2 separate regions of the Homo sapiens genome follow, and region 2 is linked to region 1. A link means that fine-mapping ties the variant in region 1 to the expression of a gene that starts in the linked region. Tissue or cell type: left ventricle. Region 1 holds a variant in brackets; the other region holds the start of a gene. All regions are shown on one strand. Distances are between the middles of the regions.

Region 1 (5,000 bases):
CTTGAGTGTTAAATGAGATAATGAACATCAAGAAGTTAGCAGAGCATCCAATAGTACAACACTAGAAAGTTATGCTTTCTTTAAAACACTTAAAAGTCAAGGAAACTAAGTCTGAACAAAATCTATCTTCCTTAGATAAGAGAAGTATTGGAGAAAGTAATTAATACGAACTAAGTGGTCCAGATACCCTATATTGAGAACGATACATAACTTTTTAAATCCTCACTAGTCTATGAGGGTGAGATGTATTATCATAATTTTATGAATGGAGAAAATAAGTGGCAGATTTGGGTTTAAACCTAGACTTGCTGACACCTACAGCTTAGATTTGTTTTTTTCTCTCTTCTGCTTTCAAACTTATATTTAAGAGCTAAAATTTATTCAACACTTTGAGTTGTGCAGTTATTCTTTAATTGAACCCTTATAACTCTTTAAGGTACCATTATACCTCCTCACTGCTTTCCTAAGATCACACCCTCCCTCCACCATTGCCCCCCCATATGAGTTTCTCCAGTATACTTCCAGTACTTTTTCTTTCTATTTTTTTAATGCATCCTCATACTCCAACACCTTCTTAGAGAAACCTAAGATTAAAGGGAGGATAGTTGTCTTTAGAGTATTTCAGATCCATTGAGGACACTAAGACACCCTAATCAATAGTTCTTGAAAAGGATGGGGAGGTAGGATGAAAAGTTCCCGTTCTATTTAGTTCCTTCGCACCAGCATCTCTTCAGCTATTGTGTGATAAAGGATATTATACCATGGCTGTGATCCTACTAGGTAGAAAATCAAAGAGGAATTGGCACTCTTGTGAGGAATACACCACCATTCCAGAGCAATTCTGATCATTTTCCTTCTTATTCTACTACTGAATGCTTTTGTTACTCACAATGAACAGAAAAAGAATAGAGAAAGACATTAACTAAAATAAATATAATTATAACAAATTATACTATTTAAAAGCATGACTGACATGTAGAACACATTAACTTATAAAAATTGTAAACTCATATGCTCTGAACTTTATATTGTTCAGAATACTATACAGTATATATGAAGCCACTATAAAAACAAAAAGAAAAACCAATGTTTAGAAAAAAAAGAAGTAAGTAAATATATGAGCTTATAAACTAAGCATATAATACCTTCCAATTCAATGCATTTAAACCGTTTGCATTTTGTTCCTCTTCATTAAAAGCTAAATTATTCTAAGGCTTTCATATTCATTCAGCCATGACTTTTATTTGTTTTATTTTAAGCTGCCAGTGCATTTCTTTTTAACATGGAGATATAATTTTAATTCAATTACACAGCATTATACTAGGAGCCCAAGAATATCACTGAAAGTGAGATTATGTCCAGATTCACATTTGGTCTATGCCTGTCTGGTTCTCAACAAGGGAAATCTGATGCCTGGCCCCAGAGGAAAGGAAGGATGCCCAAATCTCCCCAAGCTTTATTACTTTGTACTGGCTAGATAAAAATGAAAGCCATGTGATTCCTTATTCAGGATAGCCTGATGTATTAGGGTTTAAGATTTTCTTAGAAATATCCCATGAATCATGAATAAAATGTAATGTGAACAAAAACGCCCAAGAAATGAATTGCAATTACCAAATACAGTCCTAGCGGGAACTGATTCTTTATTTATCCAAAATGAAACTTGAGAAAGAATCACTGTCATAATGCACGGAATATAGGTCTGAATCATAAAATAACCCATCTTCCGTCTGAGGTGGAAGTAAACCGTCATAACAATATATTCACCTGCCAAGAAAACAGGAGGAAAATGTGTTATCGGTTCTGCAGGCAATTAGTCAATGGCTTCATAAACATATTTCAGACTAACAAACAGGATTCTAAGGAAAGAAATTCTCTTTTGTGCATAGCTACACAAACATCAATAAGTATGTAGTTTCCTAACGAGGGAGAAAATGATATTGAACGTTATTATACAGAAAAACTCTTTGTTCCGTGTAATGATTAAGCAATTTAACAAATTGGGCTAAAACTTTTAAAAATGTTCTGTAGTGCTTTCTATTTTGATGGTCTAATATTGCTAAGGCAATTAGCTTTCATTTTCAGCGTTTTTTAGAAACAGCATTTAGACCTATCTTCTATGAAAAACCACTAGAAAAAAATAGAAATGCACACAGTTACACATACACAGACACTGACACATACACACACATTTATGAAAATATAAAGTTTAATTTTAGAAAGTAATAAATATACATATTTATATATAAATATATTTAAATTTCATTCATATATAGATTTCATACACAGTCACAAGCTTAGAGAGAGGCTACCATAGTTTTAGGAAAGAGGTGAATTTCTAAATGTTCTTTATATGAAGAAAAATATAGACGTGTATAACATACAGGCATATATAACACCCCTGAGTTCAAGCATGTTTTACTGGCATTTAGACAAAAACCTGAAAAACTAATAAGTACAATAAACCATAAGATTTCTGGTAGCTGTTGATAAGTGTTTTTACTGTTACCTCTGAAAAGAATATGTGAAGAAAGTTATCTAGGAAGCAGTGG[C/A]CTTATTCACAAACCATGAGGCCAGCATTCAGAAACCTCACATCCTACCAGATGTGTTCTAAATCCCATTTGCAGACTGGAAAATAAATGCCCTTCCAAAAATAAATTTTCCTGGACAGATGAGAGGCAAGGTGCCCTTTAGAAAGCTACTGTATTGTTTCATAATTGATGTGAAGAAGGTTTCCTCAAAATGATAATAGTCATGACAGGTGTCATAAAGATAAAAGTAATGGAAATTTAGGAGAGAGGAGCAGTGCCATTGATTTTATGACAAAGACAGTGTGTGACTTATACAAAGCAGTTTTAATAGAAGAGACAGTGGGCTAAATTCCTTTTTAAAAACAAAGACTTATGTATTAATTTTATTTATCCATAATAAATTTCTATTTTATCTTATTTATGTTTAATTTTTAACCAATTTTTTGAGGTATGATTGACATACAAAAAGCTGTACATATTTAATATATACAGCTTGATGAGTTTGGAGATAAGTATACACTCATTAATCTATCACCACAATCTATGCCACAAATATATACATCACCCCCAAAAGTTCCCTCCTTCTTATTTATTATCTTCTGTGATAAGAACATTTGAGACCTATTCTCTCAGCAAATTTTTAAGTAGACAATACAGTACTGTTCACTATATGCACTCTGCTATGCGGTGGATATCTAGGATTTATTCACCTTACAGAACAGAAATACTATGCCCTTTGACTAATACCTCGCTGTTTCCTCCTCCCGGAGGCCCCTGACTACCACCATTCCTCTCACTGCCTTTCAGTTTGACTATTTTAGATTCATCATCCCTTCACAACACTGCTTTATCCATTTTTTCTTAAAACAAAAACAAAAAAAAACTTTGTTACCTCACATCTTTGCTCCAGATCTTAAAACTACTCATTTTCTACTAATGCAGTCTTAGCATTTTATCTCGCAGTCAACACCTTTTAAGAACACAAACTCAGAAGTCATAACACTTAGATGTGAATTTGGGTTTTGCCAGTTATTAGCTGTATGACTTAGGCAAATACATTGTACTTAAACCTTTCTCGTGTATAAAATAAATGTTATAGTAGTATCCACTTCATGGGATGGTTATGAGAAAAAAATACATGGAAATAATTTAGAAGGGTGCCCATCAGATGGTGATTGCTGAATAAAGTTTAACTATTGCTATGGTCTAAATGTTTGTGGTCCTCAAAGTTCAGATGTTGAAACATAATAGCCAATGTAATAATAGGAGGTTGGCTTTGGGGTGTTTAAACCATGATGGTGGAGCCTTTATGAATAGAATTAGTGCCTTTATAAAAGAGGCCCCAGTGTGAGCACCCACTCCCTACACCTTTGGGGTCCCCATGTGAGGACTTATTCATAGAAGGTACTATTCTGTGAACGAAGAAATGGGTCCTCATTGAACACTGAATCTGACTGCACCTCATCTTAGACTTGTCAGCCTCCTGAACTGTGAGAAGTAAATTTCTGTTGTTTATGAGCCGCCCTATTTGTGTTGTTTTGTTACAATGGCCCAAACAAACTAAGTTAACTATCATAAAAAATATTTTTTCTGGTGATATGTGTATGTAAGGAACAGTCTTAGAACAAGCAATAATCAGCTAATTTTTCCACTAAATATGATTAAAAACTAAATTCTATAATTCTTCCTATTCACATTCCAAAAGAAAAGAGAGACCAAGAATCATAAATAATAAACATCCCCCCTACTCATGTGATAACCTTAATGTATACCCATAATATACTTTGTAATTAAGTTTTAGATTTTTGTTTACTTTCAGAAAATGAGAGAAAGTGGCACCACAAAATTGGGCAAGATAAAGGAAAATTTTTGGAAAGCCCCACAAAAATCATCAAAAACCGAAAGCAGAAACAAAGCAAAGACAAAAAACAAGATCAGACTTCCTACCACATAATTTTGTGAAAATAATTTTAACATATTTGATTACTGGCTTTCATTTCTGAATAAGAAAACCAACTCACTTTTAGCATCTTACTAAATCAGAATTTATTTTAAACTAAAGTAAGATTATAAATATAAAGAAATTATGAGCTATAACTCATGCATCAACTCTATTTCTGGAAAATGTTTGTTGTTCTCCTGAAAAAATTAACTATTTCAATGAAAAAGTCAGGAGAAAACTTTATTGCTAACACCAAGTAGCATGTCGGCTTTAATCATTACACATCTCACCCGTAATTGATTTGATGGTTTCACTTGATACGGTTTGCCCAATCAAATCATATTGAACTAAGCTGGAAGACTCCTTCGGAACTTCAACTGATTTCTCAGGACCTTTTGTCCAGGTATAGATCATCTCACTCTTTGGATAGGCATCTAAAAGAGAGCACAGAATGTGGTTAGAGTCAATGCTCCTTTTTCATCCACATCAGTGGTCAACACTTAAAAACAGTACTTGTTCAAGAAAGA
Region 2 (5,248 bases), 21 kb after region 1:
TGCATGAAGGCAAATGCAGTGTAGGCAACCTATCCCTGGAGAGGCAACATGAAAAGAAGCAGGAGAAAGTTTCATCCTTCTCATCTATCCTTATCAGTCAATATACAAATGCTGGCCCGGCGCGGCTCACGCCTATAATCCCAGCACTTTGGGAGGCCAAGAAGGGTGGATCACTTGAGGTCAGGAGTTCGAGACCAGCCTGGCCAACATGGTGAAACCCCATCTCTACCAAAAAATATATTTAAAAAAATTAGCCAGGTGTGGTGGCTTGCACCTGTAATCCCAGCTACTCTGGGGGCTGAGGCAGGAGAATCACTTGAACCTGGGAGCCAGGGGTTGCAGTGAGCCGAGATCACGCCATTGCACTCCAGCCTGAGTGACAGAGCGAGACTCCATCTCAAAGAAAAAAAAAGAAATATACAAATGCTGAATCAATACCCTCAATGACTTCCCATAACCTTCTCATAAAATCCAAGAAAATAATGGTTTGGAATTCAGAAGACCTGATCTCATCCTATCATTGATGTACTATGTGCCCTTATATACATCACTTTCCCTTTCTAAACCTCAGTGTCCCCATCTGTTAAATGAGACCAGATGCCAAAGAAACACCCAACTCTACTTTATCTGCCCATAAAGGTTTTAAACTTGACATTTCAAGTGAAGGCTAGAAAGAGTTTCTAGCCCCAGGCCATACTCCTACTTCACATCACAGGCAGTCCTGCTCCCCATTCTTACTTTCTCCATTCTCCCAACATGTCATCTCCTACACACCCTCAATAGGAGGTATAAAGTTGCTCCATGCTTCTAATATTAGATGATACTCATCACACAGCATCTGATACCATCCCCATCTGCACGGCTTTGTCTTTTAAATACACAGCCTGCTCTGGGTTTACATCCTTCTCCTCCTACTTACTAACTTGGAACTTGGACTCAATTTCCTTATCTGTAAAGTGGGGATGGTAATGGCTTTCAAAGCTTTGTTGTGAGGGTTAAACAGAGTGGTGATGCCTACAAAATGCCTGGTATATGTGAACATTTAATTAAATAAATACAATATTACTGGCTGTTATTATTGTTACCACTTGAATGTAAGCTCCTTTAAGGCAGAATCTCTATCCTGTTCAACTCAGTTGCTGAAGGGTAATTAGTGCAGTGTACTGTAAAAAACAGGGACTTTGAGATCAAAGGACCTGGGCCAAACCTATGAATGGGACCCTAGCAAGTCATTTGTCCTCGTTGAACTGGACTGAGAAGCTGTTTGAGGTTAAGAATTGTATCTTAATATTTCTGTGGACCTAGTACCTAGCGCAAAGCTTGCCACATAGATTTCCATTATATATGCAAAGGAAATATGAATATGAAAAACAGCAACAGTGCTGTTAATGGATGTACCTCTATTAAGTCCTTTATACTTATTTTGTTGAAGAAAGCAAGCTGGAACATCTCTAACTTTAAAGTCTTAGGAGGAAAGCAAATGACACATCACCAAAAAAGAAAGGGAAAAAAGAAAAGCATCCTGCTGTAGAAGAGAAAAGGAAAGGACTGGGTTCTCTAGCAGAGCAGGCAGCTTCATGCCCCAGATTTATGTCCCAGGTAGAACATTGGCCAAGGTTTTGGCATAGGCATGGACACGTGGGAGGATGAGGGACTTCGGTTCAGCTGCCTCCAATGCAACCTGCTCTGAGCGAAGTGGCCAGGTTCAGGGAAACTATTCTCAGCGAAGAGCGTCCAGGCAGCTGAGCCCAGAGTTCCCATTTTTGACTCTTCCTCTCCAACCTCCCCCACCCAGCAGTCAGGTCCCGGGAGGTAATTAGTGTGGGGGAGAGGCAAAGCTTCTGAGGGGGCAGGGAGATGGGAAAGTACGGGTGGAGGCGGTCTTCTTGTCATAGGTCTCACCAAGAGAGGAGAGATAGAAAGAGAGAGAGATTTATTTTTGCACGTGAGGCATACCTAATGATATTCCCACAGACAGACAGACAGGAAGACCAAGAGAGGGACAGACAGGACACACTTGCGCGTTTGAAATCGTTCATACCCCCAAATCCAGGACGCAGCCTGTTGTCATAACCATCGAGCAAACTGTCCAGGATGCGGGTGAAATTTTCTGTGCACAATTTCTCCTCCTTTTGGTTCTGTCCTGGGGATTCGTTTAAACTGCAAGCGAAAAAAAAAAAACCGGGGGCGGAGGAGATTATTTTAAGAATCCATCAGAGAACAGGTGCAAACAGGTTTGTTTTCTAGGGAAAGAGTCGCTTGCCCCAAGCTAAAGGAGAGGAGGTTGGGGGTTGGGATGCAGAAGACAGAAATGGTCAGGAAAAGCGCGCCCCGCCGCAAGACCCCCAGTGCCCACACGCCTCTTGGATCCTGCGCCCTTGGTGCTCTCCGCATCTATGCGGTCACAGAAAAGCCTGGCTTCGGCCCCTGCTCTTACAGCTGAGATAAGAAGACCTAGTCCACCCAGGGAGGAGCGAGTGGCCAAAGGGGTCCCGGAGCTAGCCATTTCTCCACTTTCCGTTGCCCACCTCCTCGCACCCCAGAGAACTCACCAAACCGCCAGGCACAGGAAGCGCAGGAGGGCGAAACTGACCCCGGCGGACAGAGCGATCGCGGGTACCTTCTTGGCAGAAACCATCTTTGCAACATGCCATACTTCAAGCCTGTTCACGTTTCCAGGCTCTTCAGATGCCCTGAGCAGGGTGCGAGGAGAGGGCAGAGAGGCTCCCGCGGCGTGCGCACACTCGCGCTCACACTCGCCCGCGCTCAGCCAGCCCGAGCCGCGGTGGGCGTGTGTGTGCACGGGGCCAGGGGAGGCGGAACCTGCCTTCCTCGCCCCCTCCTTTCTCGCTCAGCGCTCAATGTGTATGTAGAGCTATGTATACCGCTCCACACCCTTTCGTGCCCGCGCGCTGAAGGTTCTGGGGTTCGTATCCGCGCGCTTGCGCTGCAAGACTCGGCAAGTTTGTTCCGACTGTAACTCCGGGGATGAGGAACGGGGTCTCTCGCCCCTCCTCCGGCTTCGCAGCCCCCGACCCCAAGTGGGCTCCCCGCCCACAGCAGTGTTCGTCCTCCTACCTCCTGGCCCCCTCCCTTCCGCTGGGATTTGGATCTAACCAATGAAGCTCCTCTGTCATCAGGTTGTGCGAGGACCTGTTTGTACCCAGAGTCAAGGTTGGAGGTGGAGAAAGGGCGGGTGACGGGGACTGCTGGGCGTCGGGTGGTAGCGGTGGTGAGGAGAGGGGATCAAGTCCGGGCTCAAACCACCTTTGAGACCCTCCCATTCAGGTGTTATGGGGGGCGGTAGGGAGAGCAATGAAAGCAGAAAGATTCTTCCTGGTAACAGGGGTTGCAGCTCACCCGGCGGACTCTCGCCAAACTATTGGGAAGTGGACTCGAGCCGCACTCTAGTCCCAGTATTTGCTAAGCTATTGCTTTAAAGACACCCCATTTCTTTACCCGCCTCCACCAGACACGCGCACACCCTCCGCTTTGCTGCTCCATCCTTTTCTGGAGAGGAGGGGAGAGGTGGAGACAAGCGACCTCTGGTCAAAATCACTTTCACTTCTTGCGACACTCTTCTTTTTCAGAATGGAGTTGACTTACTTCCAGAGGTTGACTGCTTTAGGTAGGGGGAAAGGACGGCTGGAGAGAGAGTGGGGGGGGAAAGAGAAAATGTGTGTGTGTGTGTGTGTGTGAGAGAGAGAGAGAGAGAGACAGAGAGAGACAGAGAGAGAGAGAGAGAGAGAGGCAGAAGGTGGGGTATGGAGAGAAAGGATACATAAATTAAAATGGAGGGGGACAAATATTAGTTCCCTTGTGACATGAAAGGGAACACTAAGCTCCATATCTTTACTGTTTTACTGAGCAAAGATAAGCATTCCCAATAGATCTTTGGAAACATTAATTATTGGCTCCAAGGGGGAAAAGCGTCTTTCAAATTAGTAATGATGCATGTGGAAATTTTCATATGATGGATCAATGAGCTAAGTAATTCCCATACCTTGGAACCAAACACCAATTAGGTTCTAGTCGGAACTCTGATGATTTGTTCAAATTGAGATGACTAGTGGACGGGTATGAAGAGGGAACGCATTGTATTAGACAGGGGTTTTGGTTTTTTTGTGTGTTTTAAACGTCTGGATTCAAGTTTTCTTTCTAAGGGAAAGCCCAAAGTGCTCATCGTGGGCAGTAGCTAGAGCTCCGTGCTCTGTATTCTGTACTGCTTTCTTCATGGAATTTGTTAACTTCATCCTAATCCCATCTCTATCATTCTTTTCTCATAGACTGTGGTCTCTCTGAGGGCCTGGGCTAGGTAATTTTTGCTCATCTGTGTTTATTTTATCTGCTGTTACAGTGCATGGCACATAGAATGTCAATAAATATTTATTGAATGAACAATTAAACAAAGCAATGAATTGCTTGTTCTCAGATCCATCTTATAAATGTGGATGACTATCAAGCTCTCTCGTTTGGGAAAAATAGCGGAAGAACTAGTGTATCCTCCAAATATGCCATGAAAGCATTAGTCACCACAGATTCTCCACATATTATATTATTTCTCTAATCTTAATACTTTCCTACCTTTTTAAAAAGAGAATTTAGCTCTGTTGCCCAGGCTGGAGAGCAGTGGTACCATCATAGTGACTGCAGCCTCTACCTTTTGGGCTCAAGCAATCCTTCTACCTCAGCCTTCTAAGTAGTTGGAAGTACAGGTATGTGTCACCATGCTCTGTTAATATATTTTTATATTTTTGTAGAGATGTGGGGGCTCTGCGATGTCACCAGGCTACCCTCAAACTCCTGGTCTCAAGTGATCCTCCTGCCTCTGTCTCCCAAAGTGCTGGTATGACAGATGTAAGCCACCGCCTTACATTTGTAAGCCTTTTCCTATACTTTCTAAAACCTAAATTTGTATTTTCTAAACCACTTTCCCTTGCAATTTTCATTTTAAAAATACACATATCAAAAAATTAAGAAACCAAAATAATGGCTTTGGGGAAACAGTTACATATCGTATCTTTAAAATTCAAACTTAAAATCTGTGAAACTATTATATTCAAATTAAAAGAACATTCTTTCAGAGTAGCTACTTCCAGTTATATTTTTGTTAATTGGGTTATAGTATTTAAGTTCAGCTGAAGATAATACTAAAGGCATTTATATCTCTTCTCATTTTATTTCACAGTCTTTTATTTATGCCACTTTTGTATTACTTCAAGAAGATATATGTTGAATTTCACTGCCT

The links. PIP is the estimated chance that this variant, and not a neighbour inherited with it, causes the effect. A credible set is the group of variants that fine-mapping cannot tell apart.
Region 2: GABRA4 starts here. The variant in region 1 is the best candidate, but not a certain one, in a credible set for the expression of GABRA4 in left ventricle (GTEx, PIP 0.57).

What each region holds. Positions count from the first base shown.
Region 1 is chr4:46,969,469-46,974,468 of GRCh38, forward strand. It overlaps GABRA4 (gamma-aminobutyric acid type A receptor subunit alpha4), which reads right to left. Exons shown (of 9, transcript NM_000809.4): 6 at 4,764-4,907; 7 at 1,615-1,767. Among named protein-coding and RNA genes, the nearest start is that of GABRA4, 22 kb to the right of the region's middle. The variant C/A (reference allele first, on the strand shown) is at 2,553.
Region 2 is chr4:46,990,787-46,996,034 of GRCh38, forward strand. It overlaps GABRA4 (gamma-aminobutyric acid type A receptor subunit alpha4), which reads right to left and starts at 2,795. Exons shown (of 9, transcript NM_000809.4): 1 at 2,553-2,795; 2 at 2,042-2,160. The coding sequence starts at 2,638. It also overlaps a transcript of GABRB1 not described here. RefSeq lists a silencer at 2,726-3,020 and an enhancer at 3,182-3,251.